2 separate regions of the Homo sapiens genome follow, and region 2 is linked to region 1. Evidence: fine-mapped expression QTL. Tissue or cell type: testis. Region 1 holds a variant in brackets; the other region holds the start of a gene. All regions are shown on one strand. Distances are from middle to middle.

The links. PIP is the estimated chance that this variant, and not a neighbour inherited with it, causes the effect.
Region 2: WAKMAR2 starts here. The variant in region 1 is fine-mapped to the expression of WAKMAR2 in testis (GTEx, PIP above 0.99).

Annotation. Positions count from the first base shown.
Region 1 is chr6:137,893,853-137,902,036 of GRCh38, reverse strand. No RefSeq gene overlaps it. Among named protein-coding and RNA genes, the nearest start is that of WAKMAR2, 30 kb to the right of the region's middle. The variant G/A (reference allele first, on the strand shown) is at 4,616.
Region 2 is chr6:137,863,318-137,871,501 of GRCh38, reverse strand. WAKMAR2 (wound and keratinocyte migration associated lncRNA 2) reads left to right here and starts at 3,269. Exons shown (of 4, transcript NR_049793.1): 1 at 3,269-3,860; 2 at 4,618-4,919; 3 at 6,182-6,343. TNFAIP3 (TNF alpha induced protein 3) reads right to left here and starts at 4,243. Exons shown (of 9, transcript NM_001270508.2): 1 at 3,960-4,243; 2 at 1-289. The coding sequence starts at 274. RefSeq lists enhancers at 379-498, 4,567-4,706 and silencers at 3,697-3,796, 3,937-4,106, 4,347-4,486.

The DNA of each region.
Region 1 (8,184 bases):
TTCTGTTAAGCTTTGGGCACCCGCCACCTTCATTCTTAGCTCCATCCTGGTCCTGACGCAGCTAGCCTGACCAAGCCTTGAAGTACATCAGATGCTGTAACCCTACTCATAGGTACAATTTTGAATTTGTGCTGGATCCAAGGCCATTGCGTCTGGGGTGAGCTTCAACGTCTTTGAGCCCCTTGAGCTGTATCCTTTCTCTTCCTCCTGGCCTTCACTGAGCTTGCTCTGTCCATGTCACTAGGCAGCTTGCCCTGGTTAACACTGAAATCCCTATCTGGGCCTGGAGCCAGCTCATGAACTGCACTCAGGTTCTCTGGGGTCTTGACAACATGATATCTTATTGCCAGATATGTGTTCCTTTATTCTGTTTATCAGTAGGTCAAGTCAATAAAAATATATTGATTGCCTACTCCATGCCAAGCTACTATGTGGGGGATATTACTGTCTGGACTTTGATCTGCTGTTGAGATATCAATCCAAACAACTAGATCTCAGTCAACCCTGCCGAATGCCTGATTCCAAAATTCACCATTGGCTGGACAGTCTGTTTTGCCCCAGATTGGACCTCTTAGATACTGATACCGTGTCAAGCTTACTATATCCCTTTTGACACTATAACTTGAAAATCTAGCTATCCATCTCAGGTCCCAGTTCTACAGAAAGGTTAGTCCCCAGTAATTCTGGCTTCTTTTCCTGTCCTCATGTCTCCCTTGCCAAGATCCTGCAAACTTTCCAGGTAAGCCTTCTTGGGTTCTGACCTTTATAACATTTATGATTTACAAAAATATCTTTATATATATTTTCCCATTCTAGTTTTGAATCTTAAAATAACTCTTTGAGATAGGAGGGGAGGCTTATTAAATCTCTGTTTCACTAAAGAGGAAACTGTCTTTAAGAAGACTAATGACGTATTTATGTTTAATAAATGGCCTTTTTAGGATGTGAACTCAGACCTTATCTCTCATTTTAATGTTCTTTACCCTGGGGGGTGGGGTGGCTAACCTTCACTTTGAACAGACCTTATAATTCATTTCAGGAAGCAGTCAACTCTTTGGTATGAAGGATTGATGTGTTAGACCTCCTAGGACGACACTTTAACCCCCAAATAATTACTCAAAACACATAAATATTACATCCTATGTAGTTAGAAGGATAAAAGTCAGTAGATGTAAGGCCAAGCATGGTGGCTCATGCCTATAATCCCAGCACTTTGGGAGGCCAAGGCAGACAGATTACTTGAGGTCAGGAGTTTGAGACCACTCTGTACCCAAAATACAAAAAATTAGCTAGCCGTGGTGGCATATGCCTGTAATCCCAGCTACTTGGGAGGCTGAGACAGGAGAATTGCTTGAACCCAGGAGGCAGAGGTTACAGTGAGCTGAGATCATACCACCACACTCCAGCCTGGGCGACAGAGTGGGACTTTGTCTCAAAAAAAAAAAAAAAAAATCAGTAGATGTAAAGGACCTTTGAGCAATGTGAGAATATGTTTCTTAGCTAGGCATAGACCTATCAAAGGGAAAGCTCTGTATAGGATCTCTTTTTTAAAAGAATTTAATTGTTATATTGAAACATAATTGTATGCCTATATGTGATACGTGTGATATTTTGATACATGCGTACGATGTGTAGTGATCCAGTCAGAATAATTAAGATATCTGTGACCTCACATAGTTATCATTTCTTTGTGCTAGGAACATTTCAAATCTCTTCTAGTTTTTTGGAATACACATCCTATAGCCTTTCTGCAGACTGAAAGTCGGCTTGGCTACTTCAGGGTAGAGAAGTCACCCACCCCAATATACATAGTACATGGCAGTGTTAGTTGCCACCACCTTCAAGAGCCCTTCCCAGCTTCCCTTTCTCTGTTGAGGCTGAAAGCCTGGAAACAACATTGCCTGACCTGTGTTTCTAGCAGAGTTCTTGTTTAGGGCTCACCTCCAAGAAAAAATCACCAGAGATCTGGAAAGCAAAGGAGAAGGAGAAACCATTATCTTCTCATGACAGCTGTAGGTAGTGGATGTAGGCAGGAAGAAAATGTCATCAAATGTAATTCCTGAATTTTCATACTTTTGAAAATCATCAGCAATTTATCCTGAGCTTCTCTTGCCCAGCAAGAGAAGTTATCTTAGCATCACATTTCCTATAAAAAATCCTTTCCTGCTTAGAATTTCTAACATGGTATTGTTTTCCACCAGTCCAGTTTCAACTGATGATCATATTTTCCCCATGATTTTACCTTTTTTACATTTACTTTATTATTATTTTTTTTTTGAGACAGAGTCTGCCTGTGTCACCGAGGGTGGAGTGCAGTGGCACAATCTCAGTTCACTGCAGCCTCCGCCTCTTCGGTTCAAGAGATTCTGGTGCCTCAGCCTCCTGAGTAGCTGGAATTACAGGCCTGCACCACCACACCTGGCTAAGTTTTGTATTTTTAGTAGAGACTGGGTTTTACCATGTTCGTCAGGCTGGTCTCGAACTCCTAATTTCACGTGATCCTCCCACCTTGGCCTCCCAAAGTGCTAATATTACAGGCGTGAACCCCCTGCCCAGCTACATTTACTTTTGTTTCTCTGAATGGGAGCTCTTCAAGGGATGGATGTGTCCTATTTACTTTTGCATCTCCAATGCTTGCAATATATGAGGCACTCAATAAATGTTGTTAAAAGGGAACATAAAAAATAAATTTGGGTGGGAGGAGGGTGAGATATTTTGGAGCAAACGAAGAACCGAATATCCTGAGCAAGGGAAAAAAGGAAATCTTCAAAATGTCACTCTTTAATTCTAGAGTTGTTTTGTATGGGTCAACTAGCTATTAGCGTTTAAGGCACTACCTTGATGAAGAAATCCTATGCAAAAACCTCCTCTTTATAACAAAGCTGGACTTCTAAAAAAATCACAAAAATATTTGTACATCATGCAAATTCAGATTGACATGCTTCATTAATATTTGATTCAATGGTGACATGCCTTCTAATTGAGGTATATTAGTGGTGATCATCACAAGAGAAACTACTCATATTTAAACATTTTTTCAGCCCATGGTTGGAGGTATAGAGGGCAGACACTGGGCAAAACACAAATTCTGATCCCTAAAAAAATCTTACATCTCAAACATCATCTCAACATTTACTTTTAGAGAAAATCCATACTGTGTCAGATGTAGGGTTAAGCATTTGAGACACAGAAAAATCAAGTTCCTCTACTTTGAGAAATTCACATGTATGATAAACATTAATCAATAATTATAAAATCGTGACAGAAAGTACACAGGTTTCAAGGAAGTACCTAGGAAAAGCAGCTAAATTGTATTGGAGAGTGGGAGACCACGTGCCTCTTGAATTAAAGGACTCTAGAGTTGAGTCATGAAGGATGCATAGGGCTTGGCTAGGGAATAAAGGTGGTGCAGGTGGTGGGAATGGCAGAAGCAGGCTCTGGATTGAGGACTCAGGGCATTCCTGGATTCTCTGTGGGTATGAATGGAGGCAGAGAGCCATGGGCCACATATCACCAAAGGGCCTTGTGAGCCACATTAAGGAACCTGGACTTTGGAAATCTATTGAGGGCCATTAAAAACAAGTCCTATGGTCAGTGGAATTCTGCTCAGAGTTTAGAGACCTGGACTTCATTCAAGTCTTTGTCCCTGAAATCCTTCAGATCTAGGGTGTTCCATGGACCCCAGGAGGAGAACGTAATTACATGGATATTTAGAAAGATCCCACTGGCTGCACTTTGGCAAGTGGTTTGGAGGGCTTATGACTGAAAGTAAGAGTACTAGTTATGGAGCTTTTGGGGTGGACCAGGTGAGGAGTAATCTGATGCATGGGCAATGGTGTACTAGACAGATTTAAGAGGTTCCAAATGAACACTCTCTAACCTTCTTCTCTTTTTTTGGTTAATTAAAATTTTTTCATTAAAATTTTTTTCTGCACATTTCATTTCATTTTCATTTATATTAAATAATGAATAATCTTCTAACTTTTACTGATGGCTTGGAATATATGCATGCTATATTATTATAACATCATTAACAAATTTTCTGACAATCAGGTATTATCTTTCATTTACTTTTAGATTGGAAGAGACATTCGTGTGTTTTGTTCAGACATGAAATATCAAGCTGTTCTTTTCTTAAAAATACAAAATCCTACATAGATAACAAAAGAAGCATAAAGTTGGTTTAAGCAATATGTCTCTAAACTCAGTGGTTAAATAATTACAGTACATTTTTCACAGACCCACAAATGATTTTGCTGCCTCTGAGGACGTGTGTAGCTTGTGCTGGGCCAACGGGATTGAGCCTCTTGTGGAGCCAGAGGCCTCTGTGTCAACAATTTCCCCTCAACTCTTTGAAACTACTCCTGTTTAGTTTTTTTTTTTTCACTGCCAAAATAAATAAATAAACAAATAAATAAATAAAATGGGCCAGGCCTGGTGGCTCACGCCTGTAATCCCAGCACTTTGGGAGGCCGAGGTGGGCGGATCACCTGAGGTCGGGAGTTCGAGACCAGCCTGACCAACATGGAGAAACCCCGTCTCTACTGAAAATACAAAAATTAGCCGGGCGTGGTGGCACATGCCTGTAATCCCAGCTACTCAGGAGGCTGAGGCA[G/A]GAGAATTGCTTGAACCCAGGAGGCGGAGGTTGCAGTGAGCCGAGATCGCGCCACTGCATTCCAGCCTGGGTAACAAGAGTGAAACTCCGCCTCAAAAAAAAAAAAGACTGCTCCTTTTTAATACCTGTGATAACTGTTCTTACTTTAAAGTATCTACTTTAAGAGCCACAAACTTGTTGATGTCTTTAAACCCTCAAGAATGGATAAAACTACCACCAGACTTTTCAGTTTTCTAAACTTAAATTTAAGTCATTTAAAAAGTTATGTTTTCTAAAGATGATCATGAAAAGTGTTGAGTACTAACTACTTCCTATATTCTGACTCATTATTCTACTGGAAAATCTATAAAACTGGAATTCACAGAGAAGCATATTCGGTAAACTAGTTCAGTATTCAACCAATACGTTAATTAATTTCACCTTCATGAAACTGTTGGTGTGAAGGGGCATGGAACAGCCAGGACCTGGAGGATTTCACCAGCAAGTCTTTGAATGAAGTCCAGGTCCCCAAAACCAGAGCAGAAGTTTACTGAATCACAGGACTAGGAAGATGATAGAGCACTCATAAGTGCTGTTTTAAAGGCAGGGGATGAGTGGATAGGACAGTGCAAGAGAGATTTATTCTACTTCTTTCCTTAGTCATTTCATATTAGGAATCCAAGCTTTTTTTTTTTTTTTTTTTTTTTTTTTGAGACAGGGTCTCATTCTTGTTGCCCAGGCTGGAGTGCAGGGGCGTGATCATGACTCACTGCAACCTCTGCCTCCTGGGTTCAAGCTTTTTGCCTGCCTCAGCCTCCCTAGTAGCTGGGATTATAGGCGTCTGCCACCATGCCCAGCTTATTTTTGTATTTTTAGTAGAGTTGGGGTTTCACCATGTTGGCCAGGCTGGTCTCGAACTCCTGATCGCAAATGATCCGCCCGCCTTGGCCTTGGTGCTGGGATTACAGGAATGAGCCACCGCGCCCAGCCATCAAATTTCTTAATATTAGAAAATTCCTGCTTGTTTGCTGTGCTTCTTCAGGCTGTAAATCATATCTCCTCTTGTTTTGATTCCTGTGTAGTCTGACAGCAGCTGGATGTCCTTCTTACTATAATAAAGTATTCCAATAATAATTGAAACTCTACATGTCAAATCTTACTCCAACAAACTCTAAGGATTTCCCAGATTCCTGAGTTCTAACTCAAGGTTTTAGATAGTAACTGGAGGTAATACCTTGGAAATAGATTTTCCTCTGGGAGTTAAGTAATAAACCAGTTCAGATATGTATGAAGTCGCCAGAAGAGACAGACTATGGCTTAAAATTGAAAGTGTTGACCAGGATTAGAGGAAAGTAGGCCAATCAGAAGGTGGGGGTGGTGACACAAAGAACGGGCAGGGTTTCAAAGGCAGAGCCATTGGTGGGACTCATCAAGCCATGTATGCGGAGACAGTATCCTGAAGGACTATTGCTGAGTAAGGAGAGACGTAAGGAGAGAAGACTCACTCCATTGGGACATGGAGACGGATATATCCAAATATGAAGAAGGATGCTTCAATCACACAGACAGTCACTAGCTCCCCTCAATCTGACTCCAGGCTTATCAAGCACCCTGATAATAAGCATTGCTATGGAGTGTGCCTCTAAGGAGGGGTGTCACTGACTGGAGAGTACAGTGTTTGTACCTTTTTGGTAATTAGCGGATGTTATGAAAATAATCAATACCGGTAGCAGCATATCTCTGATCAATATCTGATCTGATCTGATATTGTCTCTGGGACACTGAGTTTTTATGGCACTTCTATACTAAAATGGATTCACAATGGTAATAAATACCACCTAGTGCATGTTCACATGACAAGCTGGTCACCTGCAGAAGAAGGTGCCTGCCCTCTTGTAATGCCCCAGGTATACATTGTAATTTTATTCGCTTTCCCTCAATTGCTCTTTGAAAGCAGCACTCTTTTGGCTACTAGCAATTCCAAACTCTGGCTGCATATTAGATTCACTGGTACTTAAAAAAATAAAATACCCGAGACAGCCATCACAAGCCAATTACAGCTAGGAATCTCTGTGCATTGGCATCACTTAAAAGACCTCTGGGTGATTCTACTATGTCCCCAGGGTTGAGAACCCTTAGCTGGGTTATCCATAAAAAGAGCATTATCTGATAGTGTGAGGGGAAAAGTTCCCTGATATATTTTTGAAAGCATTTAATGAGCATTTTACAGATGAGCAAACTGCGACTCAGAGATATGAGGCAACTTGCTGAAGGCTGAATAACTCATGGGTAATGGAGCTGGCATTTGAACCTAAATATTTCTTTTACAAAATGTCATGTTCTTTCCATGATGTCTGGGAGAATGCACGGCAGAAGGCACAAGCTCTACCATGTTCTGATGAAGGGAGAGAAGAGAGGATGGCAAAAAGGGCATAGGGAGTATACAATGGAGTTTTCCGGAGGCTCCATGACATGTCATGACGTCAGCATTCTGGAAGCTAATGGTGTGTTTACTTGTGAATTCTGGCTGTGACATTTTTCTCAGTTTTAATTTCTAAAATGGTAAATATAAACAAATAAAAACACATATAAACAAAAGCTCTCTGGGGTCTTGAATAATTGTTAAGGCTGTAAAGGAGTCCTAAGACCAGAAAGGTGTCCTTTTCTAGAGAGACTAGGAAGCCGTAATATGTATATGTATACATGTAGTGACAGAAGGCAAGAATGAATACTCAACTCGGTTTATTCTAAAAAGCATTGCATGTCATGTTGGAAATTGGACTCCAAATCCTTTTTTTGTTTGTTTTTTTGAGGCGGAGTCTCTGTCACCCAGGCTTGAGTGCAGTGGCGCCATCTTGGCTCACTGCAGCCTCTGCCTCTCAGGTTGAAGTGATTCTCCTGCCTCAGCCTCCTGAGTAGCTGGAATTACAGGCGCTCACCACCACCAAACCTGGCTAATTTTTGTATTTTTAGTAGAGACAGGGTTTTGTCATGGTGGCCAGGTTCGTTTTTGACTCTTGGCCTTAAGTGATCTGCGCACCTCAGCCTCCTGTGAACCACCACGCCCAGCCCCAAATCCTTTTGCTTTCATACCATCTTTAAAAACATTTTTTGAGCATAAATTTACAAAATATGAGTTATTTTAAATCAACTATAATGCACTATTATTTAAAACATTAAAAATCACAAAATAGAGGAATTTTAAAATGAGATACAGATGAAGTAGGTAATATTTTTAAAAAATCATTTTTATTAATAGTAAAAGTATATTTTGACCTCAATAAGAAGTGGTAAAAAATTAGTTAATATGCTTTATTGAAAAAAAAAACATGTCTATCACTTTGTGAGAAAGCCACTCCAAAATGATTCTAAGTTCATTTTATTGTAATCTTTGATGATAATGACTATCAGGGCTGAAAAAGACACCTCAAGAAAATGGAAAAAAAAAATAGAAGATATGTAGAAAAAAATCACTGGGTGTGCCTGCTAATTCATGGTGAATCACATTTCATTGTCAGTTATGAAGTATGAAGTTTTTGTTGAAACTCAGCTAGTAAATTCCTATCTTCTTTGATGTCAATTAGTTGGGA
Region 2 (8,184 bases), 31 kb after region 1:
GCTTCCGGACTTCTCGACACCAGTTGAGTTTCTTCTGGCTTTCCAGGGTGGCCTGGATGTTTCTGTCGATGAGGGCTTTGTGGATGATCTCCCGAAACTGAGGACAAAACTGGCAAGTTCTGAACATTTCCAGTGTGTATCGGTGCATGGTTTTAAAATGATGAATGATCCCATTAGTAGGTTTAAAAATGTCTTCTGGAGTTCTCTCCCGTATCTTCACAGCTTTCCGCATATTGCTCAAATACAAAGCCTGAGGAAGGACTTGTTCAGCCATTGTGCTCTCCAACACCTGAAAAGGAAAGGAAAAAAAAAAAGCCATTCTATTAGCCTGACTTTAATACGACTCCTCTATAGCTGCCTGCAGGAAACCCCAGTGTTTGATCTTGTCATTACCCTGATCTGTAGGCAAAAGATCTTAGCACCTCTACTCCCGGGATACTAGCTGGCCCCAGAGATTAACTCACACTGGACTGTTTTAAGTTACATCACTTTAAAAGATTAGCCTAAACAAGAGAAGGAAGGCAGAGAGTGGGTACTGAGGAGGAGGGGAATAACCCGTGTTTTCAGTAATGTTTGTCAGGGAGCCAACCCTGTCTGTCAGCAACAGGTACTGCTCCTCAAAACCAACTTAAGCTCCCGTTTCATTCTGAGGCCACCCTGAACAGCACTGGATTTGGGGAGTACTGGATGCCAGTTAAGGGCTCAAAGTAGCCCTGACAAGTCTGTAGCTCCTCCCCTCAGACCACCACCAAGCACTCCTGCTCTTGGGCAAACTCTTGAGTTATCACTCCCTCCCTATGCTGGAAGGACAGTAAAATACTTTATGAAAAATCTTGCAATTTTATGCTGTCACTTAGGCTGCTGGTTGGTGTTTCCTCTTTAGCCCCAAAGAGAAGTATTTATAAAGTGTTTAATCATGAAGTTTATTCTGATGTTTATAAAGAGTTAAAACCGAATGTTTTCTAATCAATAAAAAAGTCCATTTCCAGCAAGATGCTTTGCAATTTTAAGAGCAGTCAGCATTCCTTCAGAACCTCCGCACCGGACTTCATATCAGAATAAGAAACAGACTAACAATAGGCTAGGCATGGTGGCTCATGCCTTTAATCCTGGCACTTTGGGAGGTCGAGGGAGGAGGATCACTTAAGCTCAGGAGTTTGAGACTAGCCTGGGCAACACGGTGAGACCTAGGTCTCTACGAAAACAAAAAATGAAAAACCGCAAAATAATAATAGAACAATAAATTCTATACTTCTAAGAACAGATATTGGAGCTCAATCATTTTAACTCAACTGCCAATGAAATTTTATCATCACCCTCCAGGTACCAACACAGAGGCAAGTCTGCCTGGCTTTTCACCCTGAAATCTTTAAGCATAATCAACTAGTAGAAGGAATGAAAATCTAGAAGTAGACAAGGAAAGAAGTTTCCACCAGGAGGCCACTCTGGCAAATGAAGGAGGAAAGGTGGCAAAGACCAGCATCTACAACCCATGCCAACAGCGCAGGATGATGCAAATTAACATGATGTAGGATCTCTCCAGTGTGGAACACTGTAAAAAGCCAGCTGTGATTTACTAGCCCTTAGTAGGGTGTCTGGCCACACTTCCTAATTTCCAAGAAGATGAAGAAGTTTTCAGAGCACAAAGACATTCCCTAGGAAATTTCACAGTGATTGTTAATTCCATTCCTGCAACATCTTATTTGCCAGGGCAACTTTCCAGTTAATAAAAATGTTAAACCTATGGAAGAGGGAGGAGAAGAAACCTAGATTTTAGGGTAGCTACTTCTGTGTGGGTCTAGACTCTCAACACCATTGATAAGGTGTTGAGATAATTCTTGTGGCCCACTCAAAGGAGAGAGGTTGGACTAGATGACCCATGGTTTCTCCTGAGGAGTTTTCTGGTGATAGTTTTAGATTGGGATTCTTAATCTGATTGCTGGGAAAGGCATAGTGGGAGTCATTCTCTGGATCAGATGGTGCTCTCTTTTGATGTCAGACGTCCTCTACAGGTGGAATTGGGCAAAATCATAGCAGGATAAAAATAACACATATACCTTTCCTTTGTGGCACAGCAAAAGTCTCTTTCACAATATCATCTATCCGTCCGTCCGTCCGTCCGTCCATCCATCCATCCATCCATCCATCCATCCATCCATCCATCTATCCATCCATCCACCCATCCACCCAACAAGCACTACCTGACCACCTACTGAAGGCCAATCACCATGCTTGATGATGGGACTAAAAGTCAAAGATGACCTTATTCCCTTCCCTGAAATTACACTACCACCTTAGTCTGCAGCTAAGGCAATGGAGTTACAGGTACTGCTCAGATCCCACAGCCATTCAGGGGCAAAGTTTTGCCTAGGAGCCAGGTCTTTCAATACCTGCCCCTTGCAATCCCACAACACCAAACCTGTGGCTACAGTGCCTGCCACAATCAGATGGAAAGAGATGGGCAGTAGGAAGATTTTAAACAAATGAGGTGTTATCTCTTTTTGCTTGCCTGACTCTTTTATTTTTCTCTTCTGAATCTAAAGATTTTTCACCAAAGATCTAAAATAGTGAGAGCTGTAAACCATAGGCAAGACATGCAAATGTCAATATCGGATACGCCAGTGTGATCTCATTGGTAGGGTTAGCCTTGCACAGCCTGTAAAACTGCCTCCTTAGAAATCAAAACCCACTGCCCAGATTTCCAGGTCTTGGACCACTCTACGCTTAAGATTAAAGAACAAATGTTTCAGATACGTTATAAGTGGCAAACAATGCAATATTACCCTTAACTTTTTTTTTTTTAACATTTGTTACCTCACTGTCTTATTTAAAGGTAGTTTCTCAACTTTTGTCACTAGGATTCCACAGAACTTCTCCGTTACTCAAACTCTTCTCCCCCTTGTTTTATTTTTCCACTCTGGGCAGACATTTTTGTCTGCATTGTGGAAATTGATGAATTATTTATCAACAAATACCTCATCCAAATTTGGGGATGTGCCTCTCCAAAAAATCAAAAATAGTACAAAGAATTGAAAAAAAAATCAAAGCAGCACCTTAAACAATGAGAATGAAGCATTCATTGGCTGCTCAATAATCTGGTACATTAAGGTTGCGGTCCAGAAGTCCCTTTAATTAACAATGGTTCTGCCAAAATGCTACCCTGAGACACTTGACCAGACTGGCTTTCCAAGGCAAGAAGATCTGAGGCGAGGAGAACCGAAAACAAAGCGGGCTCAAAAAGAGTTAAGCTCCTTCCTTACTTAATGCCACTGCTTTTCTGAGAGGCCAGGTGGCAGGATGTGGGACGACTCCAGCTGACAAAGACAGTCTAACCGTGGGGTAGGGGCTGGAGCAGGGGCCAGCGACCCACGTCTACATGCATACTTCTCTTACACTGCTGCTACTGGAAAAGCTGAACCCCGCGCCAGGACCCCAGCCCCCTGCAAGGACCCGTGAGCGTCTGGGAAGCTGTCTCTGGGACTGAAGCCCCCCACCTCCGCCGGGCTGGCGGCCACTGCGGTACCCTACGCCCCGTCGGGCTGGTCCTGCACAATTTGGGAAAAAGCCGCAGCGCTTCTGCAAGGTCTACGTGGCCATGAGCATGCAACGCTTGGCTCCAAAAAAGACACGAAAGGAGCAAAGCGCCAACGACCACCCGATCGGAGGGCCCGAGGGGCGCCTCTTCACCAGTCAGCTGCAGCTTAAGTTCCGTGCATTATCTGAAAGGAACAGCTGGCTGGAGGTATCCAGGGCTGTCACTCCAACCTCTGCAGCAGTGACCTCAACTCCCAGCACTTCAAAACCCAGACAGAAACGTCCAACAAACTCCCAGTCCAGGAGCGCTGCAAAACCAACGCCAGGTAGACGGTGCCAGCCCGGGGGTCGCTGCCCAACATGCACCCGCAGCCCTTGACTGCGGTGAGCCCGAGGCAGACGGCACGGGGAGGCGCGGCGGTTACCTCTCCGGGAGGCGCGGCGGTTACCTCTCCGGGAGGCGCGGCGGTTACCTCTCCGGGCCCCGCGATCCTTTCGCAAAGTCCCAAGTCCTGGTCAAGGCAGGAGCGCGCCGCAGGCGGGGGTCGGGGCAGGGACCGGGCGGAGGCGACGCTCCATGGACGCCTGGGGTCGGGCTCGCTCGCTGGCAGGGTCGGCTGGGGGTGTGATCTCTCTTGGCGGCCGCTCTCACCGCTCCGCCCCCGCGGGCTCCAAGCTCGCTTGGCCCGCCACGAAGACTGCAGACTGCGCAGTCTGCTTTGCCCCGTTTCAGTTGTATGCGGGTTGTAGGCCCGGGGATTTCCACGGGACTTTCCAAAGTCACGTGACTCTCTGGGTCGGGCTGCGAAGTGCGTCCAGCCGGCCGCCAGAGGGCGCAGGGGGCGAGGGGCGCGCGCGGCCTCCGCCCGACCGGGCCTGCGGGCCCCGCCCCGCCCCCTTTCCCTGCCCCGCCCCGCTGCCCCGCCCCGCCCGGTCCCTGCAGGCGCCCGGAGAAACTCCCTCGCCCCGCCCCGGGGTGTCCCCGCGTGAGTCACCTGGGCATTTCGGAAGCTGGGGTCACGTCACATCCATGTGGAAATCGCGGTGATGGGAACTGGAAATGAAATAGGTTCTTTTTCGCAGTTGTTTTTCTGCAGAAAATCATCAACTGTGGAGAAGAAGAAGGGAAATAAGAAAGAAAGAAAACCCTAAAAACCACCCTGGCGCCCGGGCCCGCAGGCCTCGGGCCGGCTCTGAAAAGTTTGGGCTGTGCACGTGATGAGCGCGTAGGCGGGAGCCCCAGACAGGACCCGGGCGGGCATTTCGAGAAAAAGCAGCGGTGACAGCCTTTGGTCCCCATCTCCATTGTTCCTGCCAGCTCTGGACCCCAGGCTGCATGAGACGTAGGTCCCAGGGGACACCCGACCCCGTGGCCCCAGTCTTAGGTAAACTTAGGAATCAGAACAACACTCACCCCTATGCCGCGCTTGCTCCATTTCCCCTTGTCTATTTCTGCTCACCAAGCATCCAGCTGACATTGCATTCAAAGCAGCATTTCAGCTTAGAAATCGCTTCTAGTCCATCACGGTGCTTGCCATGTGTCTCCAAGGCTTTATTAGGTGTGTTTTTAGTTGTCCTGATAATCAGTTCACCCCAGGGTGCTGATGGCTGATAATACTGGCGCTTCCCTCCCTACCCCCATGCGTTGCACAGGGAGGGTGAGTCATGTGGAGATGGATGCAGCCCCCTGGGCAGTGGGGGTGCAGGTGCTGTGCAGGGAGGAGTCTTAGGGCGTTTTTACTGTCTTACTGCCCTCTAAGCACGGGACCCTTTGGATCATTTACTAGATTGGCTAAACTAGAACCGGATGGAAATATTCTGTACTATGGTCCCCTTAATTACATTTAAGAATACTTGTCAGGCCATATATCACAGGTTTTTAATTAGAAAAGTATCCTCCTCTCGCCAGTAAGGACTTGCAGAGATGGGGGTGGGGGCTGGATGGAGGGTGGCACTTTTTTGGCAAAAAGAAGTTTGGAGCAGAGTGTCACTAGTGGCCTCTCTGAAGACTGGTCCTCGTCTTTTAAAACCGATGGCTGGAATTTCTTCCAGTTCCAAACCTCTTGTTATTTGTCCTCTCTTCTTGTTCACAAATGTGCTATCAACATTCAAACAATGGATAGTCAGCTATCCATTGTAAATGGACCTTGCTGGAGTCCAGGGCTAGCAGAAATGACAGGGTCTAAAATGACATTTATCAAGTACTTGCTATATGCTTATATATGCTTTTTATATGAAGGTTAAGAAGCTTGAGGCATTTGCCCAGTTTCCACAACCAAAAGGGGCAGAGTCGCCAGTGGCATTAAGCCTGTGTTACTCCAAAGCCCATAATGACCAGTCTTACTAGACCATTCCTCTCAGGAAAGATCCTGTGAGACAGGTACTCTTTTGGTGTCCTGTCTCCCAGCCTCTCAAAACAGCCAAACACGGACCTTAGACAGAATGCGGCTTCAGAGGTAGAAGGGTCTTGGTTTCACCTTCAGGAAACCTCCTGGGTTTCAGTTGAGCTGGCAGAAGAAGATCATGTATCTGAAAGACCCTGCATGGAATGTTAATCCTCACACCACTCTCCTGCTGGTGCTCCTTTGTAAACAGAGTTGGCCTGTTTCCTCTCATCTCTGGCTCCATGACTTCAATCCTCCTGCAGCTTCCACTGCCCCTATCTGGCTCATGTCTTGCTGTCTGGTGTCATGAACTGGGAGTGCAGTAAAGAGGAGTGACAAGCCTGAGGGGCCACGTTCATACCTGCCACTGCCAACTGTCCTGATGTAACTGCTTTGTCATCTTGCCTGCCAGGATTTGTGACAAGGTAATAGCAGTCAGATGCAGGAGTGGTCTATAGCCCTGGATTATGTTCGAACTCCACTTTCCATGATTCTACTGCTGGGCTTGTGAATTGCCACTCCCACCACCAGGCGGTCTTTACTGTCCTTTCCACCTTCTAAATCAGCGCTGTGTTGGGCTGTACCCTTGCCTTTTCCCCTTCTATTATGTAACACATGGACAAGACCAATGACAATTTTCTTGGTGAATCAGAAGGAAAGAAAAGAAGAGAAGGAGAGAGTATAGATGGAATGCCTTCTTATGAAAAAAAGGAGAAATACAATTTGGGGAGATTTGTTGAATAAGTTGAAACCAAAGAGATATAGAATGCTGAAAAGCCTTGAAGGAGATTTAATTTGAGCTATAGGCCTTGTCAAGATGGACAGAACTCTTTAAAGAAGAGAATATTTATTAACATTTAGTAGACACTTAGGAGAAAAAATATGTCTCCTTATTAGATGAAAAAGGAATTCTGATTATGTGAAATATTTTTGGAGAGTTCCTAAGTTACGTGCCATTTTGACACCAATGCTGGGGTTTATGGGTCATGAACTATGTAAAATGAGCACACATGACCTCTTGGAATTAAACGGTTCCCGTGAGACTGTGCTTGCAGCCTGTATCCCTGTACCATGCAGTAAAAAAGATGTGCTTGCCCAGATGGGGGGAGCAGGAAGAACCTGATGAAAGAGAGCACCACGTGTGACAAGTGAGAGGAGACCCTGCTGAGCTCAAACATATTTCATGAGCCTTTCTTAATCAAGAATCAGCAACAGTTGATTGGTTGTTGATTCTTTTTTTTTTTTTTGAGACGTCGTCTTGCTCTGTCGCCCAGGCTGGAGTGCAGTGGCGCGATCTCAGCTCACTGCAAGCTCCGCCTCCCGGGTTCACGCCATTCTCCTGCCTCAGCCTCCCGAGTAGCTGGGACTACAGGCGCCCGCCACTACGCCCGGCTAATTTTTTGTATTTTTAGTAGAGACGGGGTTTCGCCGTGTTAGCCAGGATGGTCTCGATTCTCCTGACCTCGTGATCCACCCGCCTTGGCCTCCCAAAGTGCTGGGATTACAGGCGTGAGCCACCGCGCCTGGCCCCTGGTTGTTGATTGTTAATTAGCATGCGTCTGCAGTCCCAGCTACTCGGGAGGCTGAGAGGGAAGGGTCCTTTGAGTCCGGGAGTTTGAGTCTATCCTGGGCAACATAGTAAGACCCATGTTTCTAAAAATTAAAAAAATAAAAAAGAAGAAATTATGTATTTTTAATAATCAGTGACACTCTCTTTCTGAGACTGTACAGAATTCCAGGGCATGGCAGTCATGGGCCAAACTAAAACTGGACCTTTTGTGTCTTTTGTACAATTGCCCCCTCCCCTTTTCCCTGCACTGTGCTCTATTGGAAAGGCAGATTCATAGAAAACATATTGGGAAGCAGCCTTAGGTAACTATGGCAGCTTAGTTATTGTAGGGTAGCTTTGAATCATGTTTCAGATTTTCAAATTCTGCCTCAAACATTACTAAAGGGTAACGTTTGCACATTCAAGGCCACTACAAGGGCTAGTTCTGAGAATAAAGAGAAGCTTTCTGTGGATTATAACCGTGAGAACTGGGATAATGATGTCATAAATTTCATCATCCTATGAATGCCAAATTCTACTGAATGTTGCTTCTTATCTAGGGACCTCAGATCCTTTACATGTGTTATCTGGACTGAATGGAGAAACCCAAGACCCACCATGGTGGAGGGACAACTGAAGTCCTTAGTGACCCAGTGAGTCATAGTACCAGGATCAAAGACCCTCCACTGGGAAGGAGGCAGTTGGTGTAATGACAAG